Regions from separate parts of the Homo sapiens genome. Here all the other regions are linked to region 1. The links come from fine-mapping of genetic effects on gene expression. A gene starts in region 1. Each other region holds a variant in brackets. All regions are shown on one strand. Distances are from middle to middle. Region 1 holds the start of AXIN2 (axin 2). Region 2 has its middle 24 kb from the start of AXIN2. Region 3 overlaps AXIN2 (axin 2).

Evidence for each region.
Region 2: its variant is fine-mapped to the expression of AXIN2 in whole blood (TOPMed, PIP 0.93).
Region 3: its variant is fine-mapped to the expression of AXIN2 in whole blood (INTERVAL, PIP above 0.99).

Annotation. Positions count from the first base shown.
Region 1 is chr17:65,556,935-65,567,252 of GRCh38, forward strand. It overlaps AXIN2 (axin 2), which reads right to left and starts at 4,714. Exons shown (of 11, transcript NM_004655.4): 1 at 4,516-4,714; 2 at 872-1,802. The coding sequence starts at 1,686. RefSeq lists a silencer at 4,728-4,877.
Region 2 is chr17:65,580,207-65,590,524 of GRCh38, forward strand. No RefSeq gene overlaps it. Among named protein-coding and RNA genes, the nearest start is that of AXIN2, 24 kb to the left of the region's middle. RefSeq lists an enhancer at 3,294-3,828. The variant A/G (reference allele first, on the strand shown) is at 4,507.
Region 3 is chr17:65,525,083-65,535,400 of GRCh38, forward strand. AXIN2 (axin 2) reads right to left here. Exons shown (of 11, transcript NM_004655.4): 10 at 8,830-8,997; 11 at 3,481-5,020. The coding sequence ends at 4,894. Among named protein-coding and RNA genes, the nearest start is that of AXIN2, 31 kb to the right of the region's middle. RefSeq lists enhancers at 2,829-3,123, 4,946-5,460, 5,461-5,973, 6,488-7,000. The variant G/A (reference allele first, on the strand shown) is at 6,020.

The sequences.
Region 1 (10,318 bases):
GGAGGGGAGAAAACAGAAAAACTCATTCTAACAAGAGGTCTGAAGTTGCCTCCAAAGGTCAAGAATCTTAAGACTTGGCCATTCTGCAAAGAACTATTTGTCTTTGAAGCCTCAAAGAGAAAGTACTCCAGGGCCCCAGTACTCCCGGGCCAAGATCTCTTCTCCATCAGCACTAACAAAATAATCAACTGAAGTCTGACCCTCGGACTCATGAGCATTTAAAACCTGGATTAATATGCCAGCAAGCTCTAAAGGTAAGGGTCCTTCATTTGGGAAAGTCACAGGACCTTCCCTAGTTAGAGGCCTTTCTTGCTGGGTAAATATCTAATTCTACAAAGGGAACCACAAGCTCAGTTAAGCCAATTGCTGGCTCTTATCTTAACAGAAAAGTTCAAAAAAAAATCCCACTTACCCCTCAATGGGTGCACATATTATTTCCTGTGCCTCCACCACAACCCAGCTGCCTCCCTAGCCACATTAATTCCACCCTCTACTGATTAGTGGTGAAGTGACCCCTTCCAAAACCGGCGCTTAGTGGATCTGGTGACTCAGAGGCATCAAAAGCTGCTGTCCTCTCTCTCTCTCTCAACCTCTTCTGAGACACTAGCCCGGGATAATAAGTAACCCACATTAGTGAATACTGCTTGCCACTGTTTGAAGTCAGCACTGGAAGACTGCAGGTATTTACTGTATGTGCATCGCTTTCCCCCTGTTTCAACAACAAAAAGCAAGATCAAAAAGGGTTCATGGCCAGCAGTCCTAACTCAACAGACCTGTCAGTCTCTGCAGCACACCCATCCACCCATCCACCATACTTAAAACATCTGCAAAGTCCACAGCATCAGCCCACCCGCCCCCGTCAAAGTCTTACCTGTATCCACTGTCAACAGTTTCCGTGGACCTCACACTCGCCGTGGCCCTCAGAGTTTTGCTGGACAAGCCAACCACGGTTGGCGAAAGTTTGCACTTGAAGTCGGCACAAGTCCACTCCTCTTCTTCATTCAAGGTGGGGAGATAGCCACACACGACCTTTAGGCTCCCGAGTCCCCCATTACTCATGTAAGCTGTGTTTTCTCCCCCACTCCTCACATATTCGAGGTATATATCAGAAGTCAAAAACATCTGGTAGGCATTTTCCTCCATCACCGACTGGATCTCGGTCTGCGCCTGGTCAAACATGATGGAATCAATCTGCTGCTTCTTGATGCCATCTCTTATGTAGGTCTTGGTGGCAGGCTTCAGCTGCTTGGAGACAATGCTGTTGTTCTCAATGTACCTTTTGTAGATCGCTTTGGCTACTCGTAAAGTTTTGGTATCCTTCAGGTTCATCTGCCTGAATCCATTGCAGGCAAACCAGAAGTCTAAGGTATCCACGCATTTCTCCCTCTCCAGGAAAGTTCGGAACAGGTAAGCACCGTCTTGATCGCCCAATAAGGAGTGTAAGGACTTGGTCCACCGGGTCAGAGGGGAATCCGGAGATGCCCGCCCCTCCGGCTCCCCCAACCCATCTTCGTTCCGCCTGGTGTTGGAAGAGACAGGCATGGGTTTGGTGACCTGGCCCTTGCCCACCCCTGGCTGACACGGTGGGGTCTCCCCTTCTTCCCCTGGCACTGGGGGCCGCGGGGCATCCTCACGGAAGCTGCTGCTGGGGTCCGGGAGGCAAGTCACCAACATAGCGCTACTCATGGTGAGGGAGCTCTTCCCACTGAGTCTGGGAATTTTTCTTCTTCCAGTTCCTCTCAGCAATCGGCGTGGTCTCTCTGTCTCTCTCAAGTCAGCAGGGGCTCATCTGAACCTCCTCTCTGGAAAGAAAAGGAAGGGGGGAGGTGGGGAGAGAGAAAAGGGTATTGATCTAATCAAAACCAGATCTACCCAACATCAAAGCAAGAAAGTAAACAGGCTTTTCAACTCCTCAAATTCAAATCAAGCAACCCAGCTATCTGCGAGGTGCTCATCTAAAGTATCAGGCGCTGCTTTTCAAAAGCGAAATCTGAGCTCCCTGCACACTTTTCGGGGTTGGGGGTGGGAGGGAGCTGTTGGGAAAGAGGCGGGGAAGGTGAGAGGAAGGCAAGAGCTGGGGACGGCAGGGGGACACTGGAGGTGTAAGACACAACCTTCCAAAAACCCACTCGGCCAGGGCGCACGCAGGGCAGCTCAGCCCGCGCCTCGCCTTCCCTCCCTTCCCCTCCCCCGATACCATCAACTCCAAAAAGGCGCACTCCCAGCCGCTAGGCTGTGTGCAGGTGAAACCAATTTCGGTATATTTCCCCACTCGGCCCTGCACAGATAACTCGAGCTCCAAACGTGCCCTTCCCCGGCATCTGGTTCCCATTCTCCCCACCCACCCCCTCCCTCTGCGCTCCCTCTTCCCACTCCTTAAAAATTCAGAAGATCCTGGCCCAAGAGAAGCCCGCCCAGCATAGGCGGATTGGGCTCCCGGACTCCCAGATTCAGCACGCAAACACCCCCTCCCCAACTCAGATTTGAGTGTTCGCTACGCGCCCCCTACCCCCACCAAGAATCCAGCTCAGTCAACACCTCTGTCTTCCCTGACCTCCCCCCAAACCAGAAACCAACTCACTCAGGGGAGACTTTCATCTTCAAACTTTGAGAGAGAGCTGAGAAGCCTCGGAACCGTCGCCCCCGTGCCCCCAACCCACCTCCCGGATCCGCGAAACCTACAAAACTGGATCACCAGCCGTCTCACGCCACTACTGCCTGTGCCAAGAATCCCAAACTCTACTGATTTCAAGCCTGTCTTTTTTCCAAAGAAAAAAGTCTTATCTAACCAATAAACAAGCTGCTTTCCCTAGCACGGAAAAGATCAAACTAAGAAGGGTAGGGGCTGAACGGGGTGCAACCCCGGGCGAGAAGCCAGGGACCCCGGATCTGGGATGGGTGCACGCTGAACCCGACCAGAGCCTCGAGCCGCGGGGCTGGGCGGCGCGGCCCACGGAGAAGTGGGGCTGCCGTTGGCACCGCGCTACCCGGGCGGTGGGAGGTGGAGCGGCCCCGTTACCTGGAAGACGAAGGCCGCCGAAGCCAGGCTCTCATGTCCTCCGAGCCCCTCCGGCCCGGTCCCCCGGCCCAAATGCAACTGAACGCCTCCAGAGCCCTGGCGGGCACACCTCGAGGCCGGAACCCCGGGACACGCCAGCAGCGCCCCGAGCCCGGGCGGGGGGTCGGTCCCCGGCGCCGCCGTTTGCAGAGGCGCCCGCAGAAAAAGCACAGAAAGCAGCAGCCTAGTCCAGAAATGGCGACGCGCGGAGTCTCTGCCTCTCCGCAAAAGGGGCCGGGGCGGCCACGGGCGAGGGGCCCGGGCCGGGAGGAGGGACGCGAGGGACACGGGCGCCCCGGACTTGGGCCGGTCCTGCGCGCAGACTGAGCCTCCGCCAGCGCTGTGGGCCCCTTAGCGCGGACCCGCGGCAGGGAGGGGAAAAGGGGAGGGGGAAGAGAAGTAGGAGGAGAGGATGGGGCGGAGGAGAGGCGGGGGGCGGGGGAGGGCAAGCGGGGGGCGCCGCTACCCTTTCATCCCACCTCCCAAAGGCACTCCCGCGCGCACTCACACGCCGACTCACATCCATAACCGCGACAGCGACGCGACCCCCGGGGGGTATCTGCCCCCTCTCCGCCCCCGCCACTGCCGCCACTCGGATAAGTCTCCTCTCTGGGCCCCCCGCCAACCCGGTCACCGCGCTGGGGAGGGGGCTCCGGCGCAGGGCGCGCAAGGCTGCCCGGCCAAGCCCCCCGGAACGCTGGGCGCCGGGTCCGCCGCTCCCCTCCGCGCCGGCCCCTAGCGCGCCCCGAAATAGCCGGCCTGCCAACTTCAAAGGGCCGCCCCGCACATCAAAGCGCGCGGTCCGCCCGGCCGCCTCGGCCTCGGCACTCACCATTGATCCCCGCGCGCGCTCGGCGGCGAGACCTCGCAGGCGCCCCTGGCAGGGGCCCGGCCCCGGCCCCCGGCTCGGCTCGCGGCGGCAGCCCCGGGCCCCCCCGGGCCGGCCGCGGCGTCGGGGAACATGGGGAGTCGTGCGGCGGGGGAGGGGGTGCGGGAAACAACAATCCCGGGTTCAGAGCGAAAGCCACCGGCCGGGGAGGGGGAACGGCGCGCCCCGCCGCCCCTTTTATGCAAAAGATCCGAGCGGGCCTCCGCCCCCGCCCGGCCCGGCTTTCAACGCAGGTCCTGTTTCCAGCAGTCACTCGGCGCACCAAATGTCCTCCGGGCGCTTCCAACAAAAACTGCGCTGTGGATTTAACTGTGCACTTCAAAGGCGCGAGCCGAGCGCACGGTCCTGAAAGGGAGGTACGCGCCGGCCGCGCCCCGGGCCGCCCCCCGCAGCCCCGCCACCGCTCCGCAGGGCCGCCCCGCCCGCGCCCCCCTCCAGGCCCGGCCTCCGCCTGGCCGGGCCCCCTCCCGCCCCCCGCGCCCACGCCGCGGCTCGGCGCGACCTCGCCCCCTGTAAGAGGGGGGCTTTCTTTGAAGCGGCTCCGCTGGGGCCGAGCTTCCACCCCCACCTTTTACAGCAGGGCCTTCGGCGGGCGCCTCGGCCGCCGGGCGGCCCCGAAATCCATCGCTCTGAGGGGTTATTTTTATTTCCCGGCTCTCGGGCTGTTACTGAGTTGCCAGGACCTTATCAAAGCGCAGCCGGCTCCAGCCGACTCCCCCGGGCCAGGCTCGCGGAGCCAGTGATCCCGCCGCGCCAATCACAGCCGCGCTCGGCCGGCCCGCGCCGCCCGCCTTAAAGGGACAGCGCCCCGCGCCCGCCCCGCCCCGCCCCGGCCCGCCCCCGCCGCACGCTCCGCTCCCGCGTTAACCCTTCCCCGGCCTCTCCTCCGCCCCCTGCCAGCCCCCCGCGGCCCCGAGGGCATTCTCAGCCCGAGTTCTGATTTCTTCTTTTAAGTTCTCCGGCCTCTTTGCTCCCGCCTCCTCCCCCTGCCTGCCCTCGCTCTCCCCGGCTCTGGAATGCAACAGTTTCTGGTAGCATTATGGCCATCGCAAGAACTGCAAGCAAGCAGATTTTTTTTTTTCTATCATCAAACGCTTTTCTACCTCTATTCAAGTTTCCCTGGGAATTTGGGCTTGGAGGACTTTATAAAGGGAGTTCCGGCCCTGGGGTTGGCTGGCCCGCTGTCATAGGGCGGACTCGGGCCCAGCCGCTGGAGGCGTGTGCATGCCTGTGCGCGCTTGTGCACGTGCATCTGAGTTCGGGTAAATATAGGACTGCAGTTGGTGGATGAATTGCGTTTGTGCATGTGTGAAAGTGGGGTGTGAATCCGCCAGTATAGGCCTGAGTGCTAACACCAGTTAGGAGGCATACCTCAGTGCCCTGAAGACCTAGGTCCAGCTTCCTAACCTGCTGGCCATAAGACCCTCGTAGCGGCACACATTGGCCATCTCTCCCAAACAACTGCATACCCGTTACTCTTCCAAAGTCCCCTCTTCTGCCATATGTTACATATTAAACCGATAGGAATATCTTTTTTCCCACTCCAAACGACAAGGCATGCATGCCGTTTTAATGTATCGAAAACTCCTCACCCCATTGTCACCTTTGAATTTCTCCCACATTTGCCCAAAAACGTTTATAAGGCACACACAACCTTCTCTTCTCCGTTAAAATGAGAAAATATGTCACAAACCCAGAGCATTGTGTATTTATTCTGCTGCTGCTATAGAATGATTCCTTATGTTATGAGCGAATAATTAACTTTTCTTCCTTTTAAAAAACAAAGGGCCGGGGACGGTGGCTCATGCCTGTAATCCCAGCATTTTGGGAGGCCCATGCTGGAGGATCATCTGAGGTCAGGAGTTCGAGACCAGCCTGCCTAATATGGCGAAACCCCGTCTCTACTAAAAATACAAAAATCAGCCGGGTGTGGTGGCACGTGCCTGTAGTCCCAGCTACTCGGGAGGCTGAGGCAGGAGAATCGCTTGAACCTAGGAGACGGGGGTGGGGGGGTTGCAGTGAGCCAAGATGGCACCACTGCACGCCAGGCTGGGTGACAAAGCGAGACTCCCTCAAAAAAAAAAAAAAAAAACACACACACACACACACATAAAGGTGTGAACCAAAGAGATCCAAGAAGTGAAAGGCAGAGTCCTGGCCTCAGAGCTGTGCAAGGCTCTTACTCTCCAACTTAATGGATGACGAGCCCTTTTAAATGCGAGATGGCCTGTCATTAGGCCTTCAGAACTTTAAAACATGCAAGAATTGTGGCTCTATCTAGGTATCCATAGAAAAAGAGAAGGAAGAGGCTGGGTGTGGTGGCTCACCCGTGTAATCCCAGCACTTCGGGAGGCCAAGGCAGGCGGATCACCTGAGGTCAGGCATTCGAGACCAGCCTGGCCAACATAGTGAAACCCTGTCCCTACTAAAACTACAAATATTAGCCAGGCGTGGTGGGGGGCGCCTGTAGTCCCAGCTACTCGGGAGGCTGAGGCAGGAGAATCATTTAAACACAGGAGGTTAAGGTTGCAGTGAGCCTGGGCGACAGAGCAAGACTCCATCTCAAAAAAAAAAAAGAAAAGAAAAAAAGAGGAGGAAGATCCACCACCCATGATCTGCTGGAAAGGGGCAGGTGGCAGGACTGTGCGCCACCTGCCCTCAGCCTAAGGGACTGTGACAAGGGACTAGAAAGCTCTTAGACTTTCTAGTCTAAGACTCTGGACTCTGGCTCGTGGGTGCCATGACAGGTGGCCGCTCCTCCCCAAAACCTGCCTTTCGGTGCCCATGGTCTGCAGCTCCAGGCTCTCGACCCCAGGCAGCCAGGTTGGCATAAAGACAGCAGTACCAGCCCTGAAATGTGGCCCTGAAGCCAGCCAGGAAGGCCAGGGAAAGAGTGTGGCCCGATGACTCATCTTTGCCTTAGGACAACTGCTGGTGTGAGGAAACCAGTGGGCTCTAAAAGCCCCGGCCTGCTGGTATTCTGGGGGGTCAGTGGCCCATGGACCCTCTTAGCCACCAGCTCTGAGCTGGCCCAGGGCCAAGAACACAGCCACCACCTTTGGCCACCCCAGGAGTGCCAAGAGTAAAACTGTCACTGTGGTTCCAGGGAGTCTTTGGGCCACAGAGGGTGTTATTACTGGAACAGAAATGTAGACAGAGGGGTATGGATTGCCATAAAAGTGTCTACCATATAAACAACAGTAAAGTCACACACACACACACACACACACACACACACACACACACACACACAATGTGGGGGGTGGGGGAGAGAGAAAAATCAAAACATCTAAAATCAAAATAAACAATGTTCAGAAAAAAGAGGTTTTCAAAAAGGAAGTGGAAACTTGGTCTTTGTGGGTGGTTTTCCTCTCCTCCCAGTTGTCCCCACCGACCCGTCACTGCCTCCCCCAACCAGCCCTAATCACTGTAGGCTCAACTTTAACCAAAGGACTACCTCATTATCCCATGGCTGCGACTGTAGCAAGAGGGGACTGGGACTGGGACTGGGGACCCAGGAGCAAGGCCCGGTTTGGTTTGGATCTTCTCGGTCAATAATAACTGCTCTGAGGGCCGGGGTGCAGTGGCTCATGCCTGTAATCCCAGCACTTTGGGAGGCCAAGGCAGGTGGATCACCTGAGGTTAGGAGTTCGAGACCAGCCTGACCGACATGGAGAAACTCCTTCTCTACTAAAAATACAAAATTAGTCAGGCATGGTGGCGCATACCTGTAATCCCAGCTACTTGAGAGGCGGAGGCAGGAGAATCGCTTGAACCCAGGAGACGGAGGTTGTGGTGAGCCGAGATCGTGCCATTGCACTCCAGCCTGGGCAACAAGAGCAAACTCCGTCTCAAAAAATAAATAAATAAAAAATAACTCCTCTGAGAGCATGGTTTCCAGAACAGGTGCTCGGGTCACTTTAGGGCAGTGACTCCCTCCACCATCACCCCTGGCCTGTCCCCTTTCCTACAGCTTTATATCTGGTGGGACACTTCCCTCCCAGCAGGAGGCTGGGCCAAGTACTGGAAAGCCCTCTCTCTAGCCTCTGGGTCTCTGACTACTTGTTGATAATATTTCTAGAGGAGAATCCAAAGTCCTGTGCTTATAGCAGCCCGTTTCTCAAGATAGCACGTTTTCCATTTTCCCCTTGTCCCTGGCAGCAGCGCTATCATGTGACTTGTTGTAATCCTGCACGGTTGCCTGGAAACTGGAAAGCAAGGTGATGGATTTCTGCACATGCTCACTCGCCCCCCCGCTCCACCTTTAAAGAAAAACCCTACGGAGGATAAACAGTCCACTTTGCCTAAGTGCAGACAAGTTTAATAAAGCAGAGAGTGATTCTTTGCTGGAATTATATACTGGGCTGAAATCCTAGAATCCCAGAAAACAAGGACTAAGGGCTCCCTGGGAGGCATCTGGCCAGATCTCTGACCTTTAGTCAGCCCCACAAAAACCACTGTGGAGGGGAAGTCACACCAGCTGGGACTTCAGAGGAGCTGAGACCCAGGACACTGCTCTCTCAGATTCAGTAACTTTGTCTTTTATTCCTTTGGAAAAGTGCTGCCTTAGACAATGTACCTTTGTTTGGGGAGGAAGGTGAAGAGAGACACAGGTAACCTTTCCTAAGACTGGAGGTTACCTAACCACACGGAGTTTCCATTTGTTCACCTGTAGACTGGAGGAAACCTCCCCTGCAAAGGCTGTTGTGAGCCTGAGCAATACGATAAATGCCTGGCACAGAGCTGGACACACAATAGAACATGGCGGTTATTTTCACAGAGTAAGTCTGTTCCCTCAATAGCCTGTTACCTATTCTGGGAAGAAACTCCCTATCTCCAAAGCAAAGATACCGTCCATTGGGAGTGACGATCTGGGGAAGAATGACCCCAGGAGGCTGACCATAGGGGGCCTAAAGGAGATAAAGGAGGCTGTGCCCTGCTACCATCTTTCAAGGATAGTCCTATGCAGAAAGAAATAAGCCCAGGGGCCATTCAAGAGTTATCTAGTCCAACCCTTCATTTAAGAAACCAGACAAATTGGCTGGGTGTGGTGGCTCACACCTGTAATGCCAGCACTTTGGGAGGCTGAGGTGGGCAGATCACCTGAGGTTAGGAGTTCGAGACCAGCCTGTCCAACATGGTGAAACCCTGTCTCTACTAAAATTACAAAAATTAGCTGAGCATGGTGATGCATGCCTGTAATCCCAGCTACTCGGGAGGCTGAGGCAGGAGAATCGCCTGAACCCGAGAGGCAGAGGTTGCATTGAGCGGAGACTGCGCCATTGCACTCCAGCCTGGGCAACAAGAGCGAAACTCTGTCTCCAAAAAAGAAAGAAAGAAAGAAAGAAATCAGACAAATTAAGCAAAGAGAAAGTGAGATTTCCCCAGGATCACTTTGCCCATATCAGAGATGAGCTGGAACTTCTGAGGGGTCCTGACTCCTGGCCCAGCCTCTTTTTCCTCCACACCATAGTGAGGAGACCCAGGGAGGGGCTGGCTGAGATGGAGGGGGTGAGACCATCTGGAGGTCTTGACTTTTACAACAGGACTAATACATACAATCTGGGATACTTTCCTGAAAGAATCACAACAGGGCTTCTGTCTGAAATCCCTCTAAGGCACGCTTCATCCAGCCCCTACCTGTAGGTAGGTTGCCTTGGCTCTGCCAGCTGGGCTACCCACAGCCTGATCTGGGACAGTTTGACCCACGTCTTTTAGAGTGGCAGCCATTTACATGGGCATCTCCGTGGAGTTGATCCACCTAAGGAGGAATGGACCTACTTCCTCTCCCCTTTGCAGAGGAGGGACTGGGAATGCCAAGGTGGAGATTTTGAAGCCACAAGGGGAAAAGTAAGGTTTCCCTAAGAAATCCCATCTTCAAGGCCAGGTGCAGTGACTCACACCTGTAATCCCAGCGCTTTGGGAGCCCAAGTAGGTGGATCAGCTGATGTCAGGAGTTCAAGACCAGCCTGGCCAACATGGCAAAACCCCATCTCTACTGAAAATACAAAAATTAGCCTGGTGTGGTGGCAGACACCTGTAATCCCAGCTACTCGGGAGGCTGAGGCAGGAGAATCATTTGAACCCAGGAGGCAGAGGTTGCAGTGAGCCGAGATCGTGCCACTGCACTCCAGCCTGGGCGACAGAGTGAGACTCTGCCTCAAAAGAAAAGAAAAGAAATCCCATCTTCAGAAGTGTTGGGGGAATTTATTTGTTGATAAAATATCTTTTTTTAATATGAAATTTAAAACACAGTTAAACAGTAATTTAAAACTTCCTAATTGGACTGACTTTCAAGTGCTTTTATTATGGATTGTAAATAGAGCTGCAAACTGCTGATTTTTTTTCAGCATCTCACCCTTCGTGGTCTT
Region 2 (10,318 bases), 23 kb after region 1:
AAGCCAGGCCTGGCTGGCTATTTTTTGTACCATGTGACCCCCACCCACTTCCCCCTTCCGCCTTCGCAGGCACCGCTGACTGGGATGTCACTTGTGGGTAGCCAGCTATAGGCAGGCCAACACCATGTGACTTGAGTAATCTGGCCTAGAATGATGAGCTGAGTTATTTGTTCAGCTTTCTTCTTGAGCTCAGAAATGTGAACTGGGAAACAAAGAAAAAATTTTGCTCCACTGGATTGAAGCCGTGGAGGGGACCAGAACACTGCTAGAGGAATGGCCACCTTGGGCGAGGGGCTTGTTGAGGCTATGAGGGGGCAGGGGCCAGAGGCCAGCAGAGAAAGCCAAGTCCTGGGGACAGAGAAGTCAACAGCAGCCACCTTGGCCAATTCCCCCACAAGCAACGTTATTCTTGCAACACACCCACATTTTCCCTTCAGGTCAACTGAGAGGGTCTCTGGTCCTTGCAACTGAAAAATGTTATCTTACACCTTCCAAAATTTCTATGGCTCTATACTATTATTATTATTATTGCTTTTGAGACAGGTTCTCACTCTGTGGCCCAGATTGGAGTGCACCGGTGCTATCACAGCTAACTGTGACTTTGAACTCCAGGCCTCAAGTGATCCTCCTGCCTCAGCCTTTGGAGTAGCTAAGACTACAGTGTGTGTCACCACACCTGGCTAATTTATTTATTTATTTGTTTATTTTTATTTTTATTTTTTTTTGAGACAATTTCACTCTTGTCGCCCAGGCTGGAGTGCAATGGGGTGATCTCGGCTCACTGTAACCTCCGCCTCCTGGGTTCAAGGGATACTCCAGCCTCATCCTCCCGAACAGCTGGGATTACAGGCATCTGCCACCATGCCTGGCTAATTGTATTTTTAGTAGAGACGGGGTTTCGCCATATTGGCCAGGCTGGTCTCGAACTCTTGACTTCAGGTGATCCACCCACCTCGGCCTCCCAAAGTGCTGGGATTACAGGTGTGAGCCACCACGCCTGGCCCTGGCTAATTTTTTTTTTTTTTTTTAATTTTTTTGTAGAGATGGAGTCTGGCCACAGTGCCCATGCTGATCCTGAACTCCTGGGCTCAAGCAATCCTCCCTCTTCACCCTCCCAAAGTATTGGGATTACAGGTGTGAGCCACCGCATACAGCCTATATAACTTTTAATAAAATAGAGAACCACCAAAAAGGGAAATCCACAGCATGTCAGGTGACCCTGCCATTTTGGAATGCCTTCTTATACCCAGTCACATACTATAAATTCGCCTGGTCTTGTGTCTTTCAACCAGGGCTATAGAAGAGCTAGAGTTCTAGGCTGTTGGGACATTGTGCACCCCTGGATGTCCATCTGGGGCTTTGCCATTAGACAGTCTCAGCCAGGCCTGTTGGAAACAAACTGCCAGGGAAACTGGGCCTCGTCACCTTTGACAGGCACCTTGGCATTGCCTATCTTGTGCTGATCACATCCTCAGACAACGTTTGGTGGATCCCCATTCTGTACTGCCTCACACACTCTCAGCTCTCTCTCTGTCTCTCTCTCTCTTTTTTTTTTTTTTTTTGATGTTGTTTCACTCTGTCGCCCAGGCTGGAGTGCAGTGGCACGATGTTGGCTTACAGCAACCTCTGCCTTCCGGGTTCAAGCAATTCTCTTGCCTCAGCCTCCAGAGTAGCTGGGATTACAGGCGCCCGCCACCACATCCAGCTAATTTTCATATTTTTAGTAGAGACGGGTTTTCACCATCTTGGCCAGGCTGGTCTTGAACTGCAGGCCTCAAGTGATCTGCTCACCTCGGCCTCCCAAAGTGCTGGGATTACAACTGTGAGCCACTGCGCCCAGCCTCTCTCTCTCTTTCTCTCTCTCACACGCAGACACTCACACACGTGTGCACACACACATGCATATGCTCACACACACACAGATGCTCAGACACACCCAAACCAGGACACCAGCAGCCTGGAAATACCGGACAAGAAAGTGGAAGAAAATATATAATGAGTTTGATAGAACCGGGAGTCCATTTCCTGAGCGAGGGGACTTTTGTGAGTGAGTACAGACAGATAGGAGTGATAACTTTCCTGGCCCTATAAGCCTCTAGCATTTCCATCCCCTCACACACTTCTTCCCTTGAAGTTTCTGTTCTTCACACTTCCTGCTATCTCAGGCTCTTGGCCAGATCTGCGGACTTGAAAGGCACAGCAGAATGGCCTCAAATGTTCTTCCTCCTGGATAAAATGCACACAACCACGCTTACCTGTCTATTAGCGGACTTTCTTCCTATTTGCCTGAAATGTGGATTGCTGAACAGAAGAGGCCCAGGATGAAGTGGGAGAGAGGGACCGAGGAGAAAAATGGGAGGAGTATGGACTCTTCTGGTTTTTTTTTTGAGATGGAGTCTCGCTCTGCCGCCTGGGCTAGAGTGCAATGGTGCAATCTCAGCTCACTGCAACCTCCACCTCCTGGGTTCAAGCGATTCTCCTGCTTCAGCCTCCCGAGTAGCTGGGATTACAGGTGCCTGCCACCACACCTGGCTAATTTTTTGTATTTTTGAGTAGAGATGGGGTTTCACTATGTAGGCCAGGCTGGTCTCGAACTCCTGACCTCGTGATCCACCTGCTTCAGCCTCCCAAAGTGCTGGGATTACAGGCGTGAGCCACCGAGCCCGGCCATCTTCTTAAAGTCTAGCTTAGCGCACCCACCAAGCCTAGTGCACCCACCACCATCTCCCTCCAGGCAGACAGGTTTGATGCATCCCAAAGAAAACTGGCTTTGGTGACCTCAAGTCTGGGCCCATATCCCAACTTCAGCATTTAAAAGCTGTGTAAGGCAGTGGCTCACCTGTAATCCCAGCACTTTGGGAGGCCGAGGCAGGAGGATTGCTTGAGCCCAAGAGTTCGAGACCAGCCTGGGCAACATAGCCCCATCTCTACAAAAAAAATTAAAAATTAGCCAGGCATGAAAGCTTGCACCTGTGGTCCCAGCTACTTGAGAGGCTGAGGCTGGAGGATCGCTTGAGCCTGGGAAGTCAAGGCTGTAGTGAGTTGTGATAGCGCCACTGTACTCCAGCCTGAGCGACAGTATGAGACCCTGTCTCAAACAAAACAAACCCAACTCTGTGAGCTTGAGCAAATTTCTTTTTTCTGATTTTTTTTTTTTTTTTTTTTTGAGACGGAGTCTCGCTCTATCACCCAGGCTGGAGTGCAATGGCATGATCTTGGCTCACTGCAACCTCTGCCTCCCGGGTTCAAATGATTCTCCTGTCTCAGCCTCCTGAGTAGCTGGGATTACAGGTGTCTGACACCACAACTTGCTAATTTTTGTGTGTTTTTAGTAGAGATGGGGTTTCACCAGGTTGGCCAGGATGGTTTCGAACTCCTGACCTCAGGTGATCCTCTTGCCTCAGCCTCCCAGCTGTAATCCTCAGCTGGGATTACAGGTGTGAGCTACCACACCTGGCCTAGCTTGAGCAAATTTCTCACCCTTCCTGGGCTTCACTTTTCCCAGTTGCAAAATGGGAATAAGCCGTTCTGTTACGGGAAGGATAAAAGGAGAAATGGACATAAAGGTCCATGCATACCGCAAGTGACTTTCTTCATCTTAGGGAGTCAGACTGTGGCTGCCTTCCCCTCCCGCTCCCCTCTGGCTTCCTCCTGGGAATATGTCCCTCCCAGGAGGCTGGTGGGGGCTGGGCAGTCACCCCAGGCTAGGGGGGCATCCACCTTGCAAACCCTTCCATAGCAGACTGACTGCTTGCTTTGCAGACTGTCAACGGGCAGCGCAGTCCGGGCCCAGGGAAGGGCTAGTGGCAGCTGCAGCTCTGCGACCAGGCTTGGAAACACGTGTCAAACCCTATTCCAACCAGATGAGGCTGGCCTGCTTCCAATGGCCGCTTTCCATCCAAGGTCTGGCCAAGGGGAGCTTTGCCCAGATCCCCTCCACAGGCAGCCCAGGCAGCAAGTCCTATTTGTTCCCCTGAGTCCTCGGGTCCAGACTGACAAGCTCACCTCTCTATTCCGGAGGCTCTGTTCAGAAGGTCCAAGCCATGAGTCATGCAGCCCTGCACTGCTGGGGAAGGTGGGAAGGGTAGGTGCAGGCTCCAGGGCACACAGCAACTGGAAGAAGCCATCTGCCCATCCTGTAGGTATGGTCCTCTCCCTGACAAGGCTGGTCCTCTCCCTGACAGGCAGGGGAAGGAGCTGGGTAAAAGAAGAGGACGAAGAGATGCTCTCCAACCACCACAACATGGGGCAAACATAGGCCTCCTCCAGCGAAGGGAAATATCCCATATGCAGCAGATGGGCCTGAGGCAGGTGGCCAGAGAGCCAGTGACTTCTCTTTTTGCTGCTTAGAAATGGTGGCTGAAAAAAACACACATGCCACCACCACCCAAAAAAACTAGAGAATGCAGCATACCAGCAAAGAGTCACAGAAGGAAAGGAAATCCAAATGTTTTGAGTTTAGCTATTAAGCATAGTTTCCAGCGAGTGTACTCATGTCTTGAAATG[A/G]AACAGATGAAAGCAACATGTGTCAATGGTTGTAGGAAGGCAATAATGTCATCAACAGGAAATAAAGAAATTGAACACTGAAGCCTCAGCCCAGAACTTAACTCTTCTCTTGCCCAGGTCCCCAAGGCTTTCTGCATGAAGACTGAGGACACTTCCTGCAAGACTAGGTCACTGCCTCTCTCCACCTGCCTGGAAGGTCCTTGAGGCACCCCCTGCAAGGATCACGAGCACCTGAGAAGGACTTGCTTTGTTTCTTAAGGGATGTGGCCTTGGAAGAAAGGGAACCCCAAGGGACCCTGGCCCAGCTGAAGAGGAAGCTGCACAGCCTCTCTCTCCATGAAGAGGCTACAAAGCCTTGGCTGTGGGATCACAGTTCCTGGCAGGGACAGTGCTGGCTGCTGGAAGAGCCAGCAAAGCCAAGGCCAACGTGCTGGCACTAAAAGGGCTGGTGGCGCCACCAGGAAGTCCCGCAGGCCCCAGGAGGCTCTGATTGCTGCTCAGGGCCCAGAAGCTAGGAGATCCCTTCTTAGCCAACCCCCCAACCCGAGGCAGAATGCAGAGCGCATACACGGGCCCCTCTGGCCGATCCAAGAGAACCTCAGGAAGAGCAGGGACTTTGGGCCTTGGAAGGTGAGGCTAACGTTCACATGCCTTGAGAGTGGCCGGGATGACTCTTGCAGGCCAGTCTCGCTGGTTGCTTTTATCTCTGATGAATCCACCCTATTTGGCTTTGGGGGTGCCTGACTCACTGTTGACATTGTATGTCACTTGCAAACAATTCATAAAACTTAAATATCAAACAGATCACACTGGATCAAATAGATCAAACAGATCAAGTGGGATCTTGGAGTGAGAGCATTCATGAGTTCAGTTTCAGACCTGGCCTTAGAGCTTTTAGGTCCAGGGGTGCTAGACAGCACCATGGGCTGCACCTGTTCTCTGCATCAGAGTCCTGGGGGAGGTCTACACAAAGCCGGATTCCAGAGCTTTTCTCTGGAGACTCAGGAGGTCAGGCTGAGGGGTCAGCAGCTTAGCCCAGTGATTTTTAGACCACCCTGGATCAAGATAGCCTAAAACAATGGATGTAATTGTCATTACATACAGGTAAAATTAATGGACAGAAATGCCTCAATTCTTTCTCCCATAATTAAGAAAAACCAACCCTAAAAAATATTTGGTAGGTCTTGACACTGAATTCTAGAACAGGATCTTTGGTATTTGCCCAGAAATGTACATTTGGGTTTACTGTACCCATGTGCATTAGTCAGCTTGGGCTGCCATAGCAAAACACCATACACTGGGTGGTTAAATCACAGATATTTACTTCTCACAGTTCTGGAGGCTGGAAGTCCAAGATGAAGATGCTGACGTCTTTGGTTCCTGGTGAGGGCTCTCTTTCTGGCTTGCAGAGGGCTGCCTTCTGGCTATGTCCTGCTATGGCTGAGAGACAGAGAGAGAGCAAGCTCTCTGGCATCTCTTTTTTTTTTTTTTTTTTTAGATGCAGTCTCACTCTTATTGCCCAGGCTGGAGTGCAGTGGCACGATCTCAGCTCACTGTAGCCTCTGCCTCCTGGGTTCCAGCGATTGCCCTGCCTCAGCCTCCCCAGTAGCTGAGATTACAGGCACACGCCACCACGCCCGGCTAATTTTTGTATTGTATTTTTAGTAGAGATGGGGTTTCACCATGTTGGCCAGGCTGGTGTCAAACTCCTGACCTCAGGTGATCAGCCTGCCTCAGCCTCCCTAAGTGCTGGGATTACAGACGTGAGCCACTGTGCCTGGCCTTTGTGTCTCCTCTTATAGGGGCACTAATCCCACCATGAGGGCCCCATCCTCATGACCTCATCTGAACCTAATCACCTCCCAAAGGCCCCATCTCTGAATATTGGGGGTCAGGGCATCAACATGGGAATTTTGGGGAGACAGATTGGGTCCATAGCACCATGTTTCATGGAGCTCCTCTGGGAGCATCACCAGGTTGTTCTGACCCACATGTCAGGTGCCTGCCAGGTGGGCACTGGCTTAGACTCGGGGGCAGTGTCAGCAATGGTCAGACCCGGACTTTTGCTCTTCAGGAGCTCTCATTGTGTGAGAGATCAACATAGAAACAGGGTAACGACCAAGGTGGAGATGTACCCAGGGTGCTAGGGGAGCAAAAGGGGGCACTGAGTCTACTTTACAGGAGATGACAAGGGGTAAAATCAGCTCAAGGAAACTGAGAAGGGCAAACCTGGAAGATGGAACAGCATGAGCACAGGCTCTGAAGCTCGACGCAGCCTTGGGAGAGGGGATGGCTCCCTGTGGAGCCGGACAGTACGTAACCCACAGGGGGCTGTCTGGAGTGGAAGTTGTTGTGGCCAGATCAAGGAGAAACCCAGGGCTCTGCTAGGAGTATGGCCTTGACTTCGCAGATAAATTGTCTTAAACTGGGTAGTGGAGGAGCTACGTAACCTGAGCTGGGTTTTAGAAAGCTCCCTGTTGTGGGCGTGTTGGGGCTGGATGTAATGAGAGGTAGGATTCAGGCAGCAGGGACCCCATGGGAGTCCATTACACGAATGTAAGCGATCATATTTGTTTAGATATTCACATTTTATTTCAGCAACTGTCTTAGATAGGGCTCCCCAGAAACTGACTCTGTGAGGGGAATGCATGTGAATTACTAGGAAAACTGTAAGGAAAATCCTGCAGGGGAGCGAGGGAATGGAAGGGAAGGAAGCCAAGCAAGGCTGTGACACCGAGCAGTGTCCACAGAGGGGGGACTTTGGTTCCACCCATGGGGAAATCTGGAGACAGCGTAGCCCACTGCTCACCACTGTTCTGGCTTGGGGACAAGGGAGCTGGAGGATTTATACCCCAGCATCTGTCCACCACTAGTTAAGGGCTGGGAGGAGATTAAAGGTATGCAGACACTTGCTGCTCTCCCAGTTGCCAGCAAAACACATTCTAGAAGCTTCCACCAGAGAGGCAGCAGGAAACGCTGCGAGTGAAGCAGGAAGAAGCTGGTCTCCAGGGTGGGGTGGGGGTGGGGAGAGAGGGGGTTGGAGAGCAGAGCACTGAGGGCATCTGGTGCCATGTGAGGCTGCCCAGGGACTTCCAGTGCATCTCATGACTAGCCAGGGCCAGCCAGGAATTCCTGCTTGGGAAGTACTTAGTATGGTTCAAATCTAGAATGTCGAGGAAAGCCCAAAACAGGACAGCCGCATCAGCTCCTTTTCCGGGATTATGGGGACTTTATAACTCGAAAAAATTTTTTCCAGCTGGGAGTGGACAAGGGATTTGGCAAGCAAGGAATGACCCCATACTGACCTCACCAGCTAACCGAGAACCACATCAGTGGCTACAATAGGGCTTTGCTGCAAGAATCGGGGCCCATCCAAGGGCTGCCACTGACTGGTTAACTAATGTGGGGAAGGCCAAGTTCCCATCCATCGGTTACTCAGTGCTCTTTATCTCCACAATCACAACGACTCTACCTGCCCTACTCATCTCTAAGATGGTTATAAAGATAAAAATGGGATTCCAGCTTGGGCAAGTTTTCCAAGAATGTTCAAGGCTTGTTGTAAGTCCATAGTATATGCCACTTCTGAAATGCTGAGTAATGTCAGACAAGGGCCAGCAGGGAGAAAAGTGACATTTACTGAATGTCCCCTACAGGTTGGCGGCTGCCTTTGCAAGCTTCATGCAGGTGATGAGAAGGTGCATAGGGAGAACTTTGACCTTCAAGGCTGGATACTGACAGAAACCTTGGTCTGTCCCTGTGGCTGCAGCTATCACTAAGGCATGTGGTCTCCACCCAAAATGCAATTAATCACTGAGCACGGGCGTTACCTCTTCAGACTTGTGAATAAACAGAGATCAAAGACAGCCAGTCAATGAGACTCTGATAGGCCTTTAACCAGGCCCGGTGCCAGCTCGCTGGCCGCCCGCACTCCTGATCCAGCCAGACACACTCAGCCACCCATATGTCAACTGCCTGTCCTGCCCCCCACCCTCCAGGGCCAGGCCAGCCTTCCACAGTGTCCCAGAACCATTGAGCTTCCAGGTTAACCTCTTCCCTGTTATAATGACGCACGGAAGTCACCTTTCTCTTGGAAAACCAGGACTGTGGATGACATGGCTGGGACACCATCCCTTTCCCCCTTCCCCTTGACAGCCCACTGGGTCCTGTCACTGATAGACCCAAAAGCAGAGCATCTCCCTCTGAAACATTCAAATCTGTACCCTAGGCCCATTTACAAAGCTGACTTGTCTGGAGCCTCAAGACTGCAAGAAAACAACGAGACTCTGACTGTAACATCTGAACTGTCAGGGAACGCCTGTATAACCTCTGTCGGCCTCTCTGCCAGGCAGGGTTTATGCCCCACCTCACTGTGGGAACCCTGGTGCCCCAGATGTGGGGATGAGAGTGAGGGGGACGGGGAGTCTGTGCCATGCTCCAGGATGGCCAGGCTCTCCTGGCCACCCCCAGTGTCTACCTCAAAGTCCCCACCCCATTGCACAGCACGGGAACCTGTGCCCACAGCTCTACAGTGTGAGCTCTTTAAGGGCAAGGAAAAGATTCATTCACCTTTGCATTTCCAGAACTTCACCCAAAGCAGGGGCCCAGCACAGGTAGGTGTCTTTCATGCGGGACCCACCACACACCACCGGGAATACTGAGGATCTGAGAGCCTGTGGGACTTGCCCAAGCTAAGCTGGTCAGTGAACGGCAGGGTCTGGACTTGAACACAAGTCTGTCTGACTTCAAAGTCTGGGCTTGTTCCAATACATTACACATATGTCTGAGCTAAGACATCTGGGTTTACAACATCATAAAAATCAAAGGTTGGCAATACGTTCCCAGCATCCAGTTTCACACATGGACCAGTTTTGTCCCAGAGCCAAGGACTGGCGACCCTGGCTTCAGGCACCCCTTTGCTGACAGGAGCTCTGGGGAAGACAGTGCAGAGGGCACTGTCCATGCAGCCTCTCTGGGGGCAAGGACAGGCCATACTACAGATGTTTTCAGTTACCACCAAGTTCTCTCTTCTCTAAGAGGATGTAGGCTGCCTTGTATAATATCTACATTAGTGGCCAGGCATAGCGGCTCATTATAGACATGAGTTACCAGCACTGGGAGGCTGAGGCGGGTGGATCACCTGAGGTCAGGAGTTTGAGACCAGCCTGGCCAACATGGTGAAACCCCGTCTCTAGTAAAAATACAAAAATTAGCTGTGTGTGGTGGCATACACCTGTGATCCCAGCTACTTGGGAGGCTGAGGCAGGAGAATCGCTTGAACCGGGGAGGTGGAGGTTGCAGTGAGCCGAAATTGCACTACTGCACTCCAGCCTTGGCAACAAAGCAAGACCTTGTCTCAAAAAAAAAAATCTAAATTAGCAGATGATTTTCAAAGTTTTTGGATTGGATTGTGGAACAAATCATATCATTTCCCTGTATCAGGCTACATTGAATATTCGCCATAATTTTATTTTATTTATTTTTATTCTTAATTTTGAGGCAGGGGCTCGCTGTGTCATCCAGGCTGGAGTGCAGTGGTGTGATCATGGCTCTTGGCAGCCTTGAACTCCTGGGCTCAAGTAATCCTCCCACCTCAAACCTCCCAAGTAAGCTGGGATGACAGGTGCACACCACCATGCCCAGCTAATCATCAGAATTTTCCAAGAACAAATCAAATGAATGCATAGCCTATCTGTGATCAAGGAGAGTCTATGTTACACACCGCTACACATTACCTGCCCTTCTTCAGGGAACACTCTCTATGATCTCTGATAATCCAGGCACAGTTGGCCACAGTGTTTCTCTTTTCTTTCTT
Region 3 (10,318 bases), 32 kb before region 1:
AAGTGCTAGGATAACCCAATCTTTAAACGGGTTAAAGACTTTAATAGACATTTCTCGGCCGGGGGCGGTGGCTCATGCCTGTAATCCTAGCACAGGATTGAGAGGCCGAGGTGGGGGAATCACCTGAGGTCAGGAGTTCAAGACCAGCCTGGCCAACATGGTGAAACCCCGTCTCTACTAAAATACAAAAATTAGCCGGGCATGATGGCAGATGCCTGTAATCCCAGCTACTCAGGAGGCTGAGACAGGAGAATCGCTTGAACCTGGGAGACAGTGGTTGCAGTGAGCCAAGATCACACCAGTGGACTCCAGCCTGGGTGTCTGAGCAAGACTCCATCTCAAAAAAAAAAAAAAAAAAAAAAAAAAAAGACATTTCTCCAAAGACACACAAATGGCCAACATGTATTTGAAAAGATGCTCAGTGTCACTAACCATCAGGGAAATGCAAATCAAAATCATGATGAGGTATCATCTCATACCTATTAGGATGGCTATTATCACAAAAAAACGAGTGTTGATGAGGATGTGGAGAGATTGGAACTCTTGTATACTGTTGGTGGGAATGCAAAGTGGTGCAACCACTGTGGAAAACACTTCGGAGATTGCTCAAAACATTTAAAATAGAGCCGCCATATGATTCAGCAATTCCACTTCTGGGTATTTATCAAAAATCATTGAAATCAAGTTCTTGCCAGGTGTGGTGGCTCACGCCTGTAATCCCAGCACTTTGGGAGGCCAAGGCAGGTGAAATACTTGAGGCCAGGAGTTCAAGAACAGCCTGGCCAACATGGCAAAACCCCATCTCTACTAAAAATACAAAAAATTAGATGGGCATGGTGGCGGGCGCCTGTAATCCCAGCTACTCGGGAGGCTAAGGCAGGAGAATCACTTGACCCCAGGAGGTGGAGGTTGCAGTCCATTGCACTCCAGCCTAGGCGACAGAGTGAGACTCCATCTCAAAAAAAAAAAAAAATAGAGATGATCAAGGTCTTGAAGAGATATTGGCACTTCCTTTTTTATTGCAGCATTATTCACAATAGCCAAGATGTGGAAATGACCTAAGTGTCCATCGATGGATTCGTGGATAAAGAAAATGTAATATAAATACACAATGGAATACTATTCAGCCTTAAAAAAAAGAGTAAAATCCTGTCATTTGTGACAACACGGATGAACCTACAGCACATTGTGCTAAATGAAATAAGCCAGGCACGGATTGACAAATACTGCAGGATTCCAGTTATATAGGTATCTAAGTCAACTTTGCAGAATTAGAGAGCCAAATGGTGGTTGTCAGGGGCTGGAGTGAGGGGGTAATGAGTTGCTGGTCAATGTGCGTAAAGTCTCAATTATGCAAGATAAATAAGTTCCAGAAATCTTCTGTGCAACACTGTCCCTATGGTTAACAATACTGTATTGTATACTTAAAAGTTTAAGAGGGGCCGGGTGCGATGGCTCACTCCTGTAATCCCAGCACTTTGGGAGGCCGAGGAGGGCAAGATTCACTTGAGGCCAGGAGTTCAAGACCAGCCTGGCCAACATGGCGAAACCCAGTCTTTACTAAAAATACAAAAATTAGCCGATGTGGTGGCACATGCCTGTAATCCCAGCTACTTGGGAGATTGAGGCACGGGAATCGCTTGAACCCAGGAAGCGGAGGTTGCAGCGAGCTGAGATTGTGCCACTGCATTCCAGCCTGGGCAACAGAGCAAGACTCTTGCCTCCAAAAAAAAAAAAAAAAAAAAAGTTTAAAGATGAAAACAGGGGCCAGGTGCAGTGGCTCATGTCTGTAATCCTAGCACTTTTGGGAGGTCTCAGGAGTTTGAGACCAGCCTGGGCAACATAGCAAAACCCCATCTCTACTAAAAAAATACAAAGATTAGCCAGCCGTAGTGGTGGGCGCCTGTAATCCCAGCTAATCAGGAGGCCGAGGCCTGAGAATCGCTTGAATCCAGGAGGTGGAGGTTGCAGTGAGCCGAGATTGCGCCATTGCACTCCAGTCTGGATGACAGAGTGAGACTTTGTCTCAAAAAAAAAAAAAAAAAAAAAAAGAATGAAAACAGGAGATAGAAACATGAGTGATCAACTAGTCCAGTTCTCTCTCACAAATGCACCTTAGAAGATGCCAGAAACCCGCTCATGGCACCCAGAGGGTGGTGGTGCTGGGCCTTCAGTCCAGTTTGTCTGAGGCCCAAGCCCCAACCTCATCACTCTCCTCAATCAAGAGGCCTGAAGATAGAGATGAAAAGCCATCCACAAACCCCAATCTTCACCACACACAATAGGTTGCATCTCTTCATCCTTTTGTCTTGGAAAGAAGTTTACAATTCGGAAAGTGTTGGACACCCTGGTATGAACCCCCATTCCAGCCAGGAGGGGAGGGCACAGCACCTGCATGGTTAGGGACAAGTTCAAGGCATCAGAGCTCCTCCAGCCTCTTGCCAGATGCCCTCACATCCTCGCCTTCTCAGAGGGTAACTCAGGACTCTCCCAGCAGCCTTGACAACTCCTACTACTGCCACCACTCCGAGGCTACTGGGTTCGAGTCCATCCCTACCCCGCATGGCCAGAACCCTGGCCTTTCTCTATGCTGCCGGCCTGACGCCAGTTGGCAGCAGGAAGAACAAGCCAAGCAGATCCACTGCAGACCACCGAGTTCATTTCATGAAAACTCAGCACACAAGAAGTCAAGTCCAACTGCAGTTACAGATCCTCTGTTTTTAAAAAGGGTTCTTCCTAGGACTCCACTAAAAAGACCTGCTTTCCCAGATCTAAAGTATGGCCTGGCATGCAGGCCAAGTGCTCAGGATACAGGGAGGGCACGTTTGTTGAGCGGGCAACTGCCTGCCGAGGTCCTTGGCCACATAAGCACACCTGTCCACCGAGCGGTGCAGAAGCTGCCTGTGTCGCCTCCTCCTGAACCACCTCCTTGCTATGTTCCCGACACCTGACCGGCCCTGAGCCTGATGGCTCACGATAAAATACTGATAGGATTAATAGTCAGCCTTGTTGATCAGCTCCCAGAATGGGGAGGGTGCCTGGCTAGCTTTGATCTCTAAGTCCATTGGCCCCACGTGGACATTCCAGGTCTATGAAACCATCTGCTGAACGGCTTTCATGTCGGAGACACCTGTTGAAACTCCTGGGAGGGCCTCCTCTCATCCCCTGGTCCCCTGCACCTACCTGGCCGGACTGGAGACAATCTGCCCAGGAGGAAGAGGCTGAATGGAGGTGTTACAGGGAAGAGGACCCCCAAAGGAGATGTCATCTACAGCCTGCTCCAAGGCAAGAAAAGCCTCAGCCAGTAGCCAGGTGATTTGAATAAATGGCTTTACAAAACCTCCAGGTGGGTCCAGATCAGGTCAGGGCTCAAGGTCAGAGACGGGCTTGGGCAAGGTAGGAAATCAAGCACAGATGTCTACACACAAAAGGGCCCCTCGGCCCTGTTCCCACCCTGGGGATTCAAAGACGAGGCCAGTGTTTTGAAAAATATAAAATTTTAATAAAGGCTACATCTCTTAATTACAATAATTATTGTACCAAGTAATTTTCCTTAAATGAACTCTTTATAATGCATAATTTACAGTATAAGTAGAACAAAATGTCATGACAAAAGTCATTGAGTACAAGACTTGTAATAAAAAGGCATAAAATATATTTATACATAAACCCCTTTCAAAAAACAAGGGAAAGCTTGAGCCCTCAATATAGGGCGACACACGGAGCGGGTGACCGTGCAGGTACAGGTACTGTACTGATTTAAAGTCAAGCACTAGAGATAGTGGATTAATACTCTTTTGCCGTACACTATATACAGATGTATAGTACAAGTAACAATGGCAAACAGAATGTACAGATTAACTTAACACAAAAACCCGAACATCAAAATGAAGGTGTGTGGAGGAAAGGTGCTGCTGGGTCTCCCTACAACTGTTCATTTCTTTGTGGGGCAGGGGGTAGTTCCTGAATGGCTGTGGTCCAATGACTAATGTAAAACAAAAACAGAAACAAAAAAAACAAGGAACTGTCATTTCCACGAAAGCACAGCGGCAGTGATTCTAGCAGGCCTCAGGGCCCTGGGCCTGGGGAGGCTACATGAGGGGGAGCCTCAGTCACAGGATCAACCTGGGGCCCGAAGGAGCAGGGTTCCCTGCCTCTCCCTCTGCAACAGATCATCCCATCCAACACAACCCCCAAAATGTTGATGATGACGCAACATGGTCAACCCTCAAGACCTTTAAGACAAAACAGAGCAGCATAGGAAAAAAAAAAACAAAACGCACCAATTTCTGCATGTGTCAATGGTAGGGCACCATTTTAAAAAGTCTGTCTAAAACAGTCTGTCTTCACTTGGAGGGACGTAGTGCAAAGCATAATTCCTCTGTTAGTGAAGAAACCATGAACGCACTCCTAGCTCAACTCCTAAGTTTAGTCAGAACAATTAAAACTTCCTGTCTCCCCCTTCCAAGTTTAAAGCAGCATATCCATAAACTGGGGATGGGGGAAATCAACTGTTCTATAAATATCAGTAAGGATTCCTGTTCAGGTAAGCTATACACAGTTTCTCTTAGTTTATGGATTTCAGATCCCTAGGAAGTCATATATTATGTATGGCAGTCTCTCAAATACAGGCAGCATCTTCAATAGCCAAGAGTGGTCATGTTTTTAATAAATAGTTCAGGCTTTTCTTATCTCAGTCAGTACCCAGCTCATGAATCATGAAAATCAACCTCCCCCCGCCCTCCCGAAGGCCCACTGGCCGATTCTTCCTTAGACTTTGTCTTCTTCATTGGTTTAATTTTCCTTCAAAATGTTTTGTCGCAGTTGCTCACAGCCAAGACAGTTCACAAGAGCTTCGGGCTCCAACAGTTCACCAAAGCCAGACCCCAGGGCTCAATCGATCCGCTCCACTTTGCCCAGAATCCGGCCTTCATACATCGGGAGCACCGTCTCATCCTCCCAGATCTCCTCAAACACCGCTCCACAGGCAAACTCATCGCTTGCTTTTTTGAAGTAATACCTTAAAAGGAAAACCAAAAAAGCTTCTTGGTAAACTGCATTTTCCACATTGTTGAAAAGAAAAGCATACCAACATGGAGGACTGAGGTATCCTAGGAATTTGCTATGGCAGGTGTGCCTGTACACTGTTGCGCACATCTGCTTTAAGACGGCAGCTGGGACTGGCCACACCACAAGAAGCAGGTGGGCCGAGATGATGAAGGCCAGGCACCCACTGAGCAGCAGCCTGGGCTGGGCCTGCCACCTGCAATCTTCAACCCAGCACCTCTGCTGTCTCCTGACACGTATACACTGTGAAAAGCAGAGCTGCTTTCCCCCCGCCAACCTTTTTCAGCAGTGGGGTGGGGGAGGGAAGGGAAGGACAAATGCCTGCAGTTCCTTTGCAGCAGGAGCCAAGCAGGTCCTTCAAAGAGACTCCAGACTATCTCCAGGTTCAGCCATCCTGAACCCATCACACCTGGAGAGCCGGAACCTGCCGAAGTCTGTAAAAGGCTGACTTCCAGATGGTTTAGCAGTCCAAAGGCCTCTCGGCCTTCCCATCCTCCAGGTCCCAAGTGCAACACTCCTGGATGGCCCTGGCACAGCCACACAGGAGGCAAGCCAGCCCAGCGCAGCTTCCCAGGGCCGAACAGACGGCACTGGCCCCATGATGCCCTCCCCTCTTCTCCCCATTTCCAGGCCTCTTCTCCCATCCCATCCCTCCAGGGTCAAACACCAAAGGCCCTTCTATTATGCCCGTTGATTAAAGGCTCCTTTCATCCCTCCCCAGCGTTCTTTCTTCTGAGGCTGTTTAATTGTACAGATGCAAATGCCTGGCCTCTCAGGAGTGCCACATTCGGAAACAACTGCTGTCCTCTTGGGCCAGGCCCACCCCTAAACCCCTTCCGAGGAAATTAAGCAAGGGCCTCTTCCTTCCCTGTCCCCAGCCAAGGGAGACCCCTCAGAGGGATTAAACTTGCCCCTGCAAGCTGTCATTTCCAGCCCATAAAGGCCACTCACA[G/A]AGGGAAGGTCACAGTCCCCTGGGGGGATGGGAGAACCTTTCAAGCATTTAATTGTGTCTCAGGGTTATGGTTGGGCTTTGTCTTTTCCCTTTAAAAAAAAAAAAATTAACTCCCCTTGGTTAGAGCTCAATTTTTTCCCTCTTTAATAAAGGCAAGCCAAATACTTTCGTAGGAGATAAGGCTAAATACAGTGAACAGCTGGGTTTAGTCAAGGTTCTTTGTTTTTAGCATTCCTGACCCAGCTAATGCAGTGGGGTGAACAACGGCATGGCTCTGACTAGGCAGCACTGAAGACACGTCATGTCAAGGGGTCAAAATTCTCGGGGGAGCGTGAGAGGAGACAGTGAGAAAATGGGGAGGGGCTCTGTGCACAGGAGACTCAGGACAGTGGGGGGAAAAGTCACTTCTCCACATAAGAGGCTCAAATCCCAACGCCACCCTCCGTCAGACCCCTTTGGCCCCAGCTCCGACCCCTCCAGGGTTTACCAAGTTGGGCTTTCACAGCATGTCTGAGCAAACACGCAGCGACCTTTTACATAATTGCAACCTCCTCCAGAGAGGAGAGAGGCCACATTCTCTCAGCCCCACCCCCAGGACTTCAAACACACTGCACTGCCCTCATTTTCTCCAAGAAACAGGCTTTTCCACTGCAACATGCTTCATGTGGCAAACTTTGCTTTCTTCTGACATCTGGCACCAACAGCGTCTGGCGCGTCTGAAGGGACTGTTTGCTTTTTGAACCCCTGCCATGTTGAGATTACTCAACGCATCCCAGGTCCCCCCCACCTCCCACCCCTGCTCCACGGCCCCAACCTCACTGGGTCTTTTTTATTTTTTTGAAGGGGGGATGTATTTGTACAAATTGAGATGTTGAAGCACCAGCCCTGCTGGGAGGGTGAGGCGTGACACCCTGTGTCCCTGTCCTACCCCAGGAGGACACTGAGTCTAGCTCAGGCCCTGCAGAGATAAGGCAGCTGGGAGGGCCTTCCCACAGCCTGATCCACTCAGGAAAGAACTGGAGAGGATCGGAGAGTTGACCATTTGTGCAAGTCTTTGTGCATTAAAGGGGAGGCCAGGGCTTCAAAGCCAGGCTTATTAACTGTGCCTCAGGGAGAAAAAAAAAAAATCAGAGCCAGATGTGGCCACAGCAGCTGAAGGAGGCACTTTCCCCACAAGCCTATGCCAGCGCCACATGGCTCTTCTCCAAGGTCACCTGCAGTTCCACTCGAAGTCCAGCCGAGACAAAGCCAAGATCAAAATGAATCCCCAGAGGGACACACTTGTGTCATTAGTTTCACCTTGTGTCTTTTCAAGATAAAAGCAGCAGCAGCAGCAGCCAGGCCTGTTCCCCCACCCCTTTGATACCTTTTCACAATTGTCTCTGCCCAGGTATAAAAGGGACTATCCAGACCCAGCAACACGCCCTGCTGGCCAGTTACCTCCAGGGGCTCAGTCCAACCTCCATCCCCTCCCCACTCCAAAGAGAATCACTTTGAGCCCCCGCCCAAACTAACTCCCAGATGAAGGTGGCTGGTAAAACTATACAAGGCCTGCTCTAGAGGGGAGGGTGTCTCAGAGCCCTGCAGGTGGACTCATCCCCGTCCAGGAGCCCATGCCCACCTGGCAGGTTACCAAGTGCTATTCAGAGTTTTCCACTCACACCCCTGGCCCTGGTGGCGGCAACGGGTTCACACCTGGGAATAGACTGTGGTCCTGGCACAGGGACAACAGCACACAGCTGAGGAGTTGGAACTCTGTCTTGGGTGTAGACCCCAGAGTGAGCACCTCCTTAAACTAGGGTGCCCCTGTCTCACCCTTGTCCCAGCCTGGAGCCCTAAACCTGGGAAACCTGGGACAGAACTGGAGCAGAATCCACACATTCTCTTGGGCTGCAGGCCATGGAGAGGGGCAAGGGAGGACTCCAGATGAACTGAGGCAGAGTCATCACCTGCTCCTTACGAGGGAAATGATCAAGAGAAGGAATGGCCTAGGGCTGGCCCTCATCCTCCTCAGCTCTTGAACCCTCTCAAGGGCCCTAAAAAGTCAGCATGGACCTTCTCAAGGGCACCTCCGTCCACTCTGCAGACAAGGTAAGGAGACCAGGAAGTTCCCTTCCTGAAGCCCCTGCAGGGGAGAAGGCAGCGGGGCCCAGGCCTGGACAGGAGGAGTAGACTGCCCTATTCACCCTGTGCCCACCCGCAGGTCCAGCCCCTTCTTTGTTATGGACAAAGGCGCATCTCTGCTTCTAATGGCCCATAAAATCCAGGGAGGCTGTTCAGGTGGAAAGGCAGGGTAAGAAAAACACGGGGGACTTTTCCTAGGCATGGTTCCTGACTATTTGGAGCCTTCAATGTGGGGGTCTCTCCTAAACTCAAGCCAGTAGGGCGGCGCTTCCAGACCCTCCCTCCTAATCAGTGTGCCTGTCCCTCTTTTTGCTCCCTGCTCCCCACTCGCCCACAAGCCCCTCAATTGCAGGTAAAGCCTCTGCAGTGTGGCCTGAGCCCCACTCTCCTGTCGGTGCAAGCAGCTGCTCCTTTTCTCTCCTCAGTCTGGTTCACCTGGTGGAAAGAGCCTGGCCAGGTCCCCCAGAGAACCCTCCACGCAGCCTCCCTCTTGCGGCTGCTGCTTCGTTATTGCTGCTAGCGGTGAGGGGAGAGAAGAAATGAGAAGGGAGCCTCCCCCAGCGCCTGCTGAGCCCCCTCCCACCCTGCCCCACCTAGGTCTGCTCAGCCAGGGGAGCTGCTCCAGGCTCTGGCTCTTGGTTCTGAGCAAACAAACTGAGAGCAGAAAAAAGCCACAGGACTCTTACCTATAATTTCCCTTTTTGCTGAGCTGCTCTTTAAAGTGGCCCAGGGTCAAGCTCTGAGCCTTCAGCATCCTCCGGTATGGAATTTCTTCCCCACAGAAAAAGTAAGTGACAACCAACTCACTGGCCTGGAGCGCGTGGACACCTGCCAGTTTCTTTGGCTCTTTGTGACTGAAAATAAGATGGAATGGAACAAGTTTAGCATTTTAAAGCAGACACACATCTAAAGCAAACACACACGTGCGCACATGTGCATAAGTGACAGGGTATCCAAACACTAGGGCTGCAATTGTAAACCCAAAGTGGGGGCTGGGGCAGAGCCCCACATCCCAGAGTCAGGCAGCTCTGGGGGACACACAGTCCAACCCCACATGTGCTGCATGCAGCATGCAGAAAAGGATGATTTCCTTTTGGTTGTACAAATTGGTATCATTTCCCCCACCGCCACCAAATGAAAGTATACGGCGGCCTCTTTCAGGCTGGCATAAATGGGGTGCTTCCTCAAGAAGATGAGAGAAGAGAAATTATCACAGAGATGCCGGGTCTCACCTGGATTGGAGAGTGCTAAAGAGACAAACCCAGAGCAGGACACCTTTGGGATGGCATGATCTCAGAATGCCTAAAGCCCACCCCTTATTCCAGCAGAATGAGAACAACTAATGGGGGTTATCACACAGTCATGTCCATTTCCCCATTTCTTCTGAGATTTTGTAGAATGGCTTGAAAAAAAGGCTGCTAGGCCGGGCGTGGTGGCTCACGCCTGTAATCCCAGCACTTTGGGAGGCCGAGGTGGGCGGATCACTTGAGGTCAGGAGTTTGAGACCAGCTTGGCCAACATGGCGAAACCCTGTCTCTACTAACAATACAAAAAAGGAGCTGGGTGTGGTGGTGGGCGCCTGCAATCCCAGCTACTCGGGAGGCTGAGGCAGGAGAACTGCCTGAACCCAGGAGGCGGAGGCTGCAGTGGGCCAAGATTAAGCCACTGCACTCCAGCCTGGGCAACAGGGCGAGACTCTGTCTCAAAAAGAAAAAAAAAAGTGGCTGGCCCAGACCCAGAGAGCTGGTACACTTAGGGTCAACCAATTGAAACAATGAAAGGGTCCAGGGCAGTGGCCTATTGAGGACTTCAAACATTGCTCATTGCTCAGGATGAAGACACTAAGAAAGAAAACTTGATACAGACCATTTTAGATCTCTTTAGCAGATTTCTTTTTAATTGCACCATCCAGTAATTAAACGAGCAGGCTCCTCAACCTACTTTGAAAGAGACTAAATTTACAAAAAGAATCACTGCCCAATTTGGGGGAAGATATTCTGTCTTCTCCAAACAAAAACACAAGGATGGTCCCCTCCACCTCTGCCACAGTGGAGAATGATCTTTCTGCTCAGGGGTGACAAATGTTTCCAGTACTACTAAATTGCAAGTTGAATGGGGGCAACTTTTCCAGCTGAATTTGAGGTCCCTTCTACACTTCTGCTAATGGCTTCATGT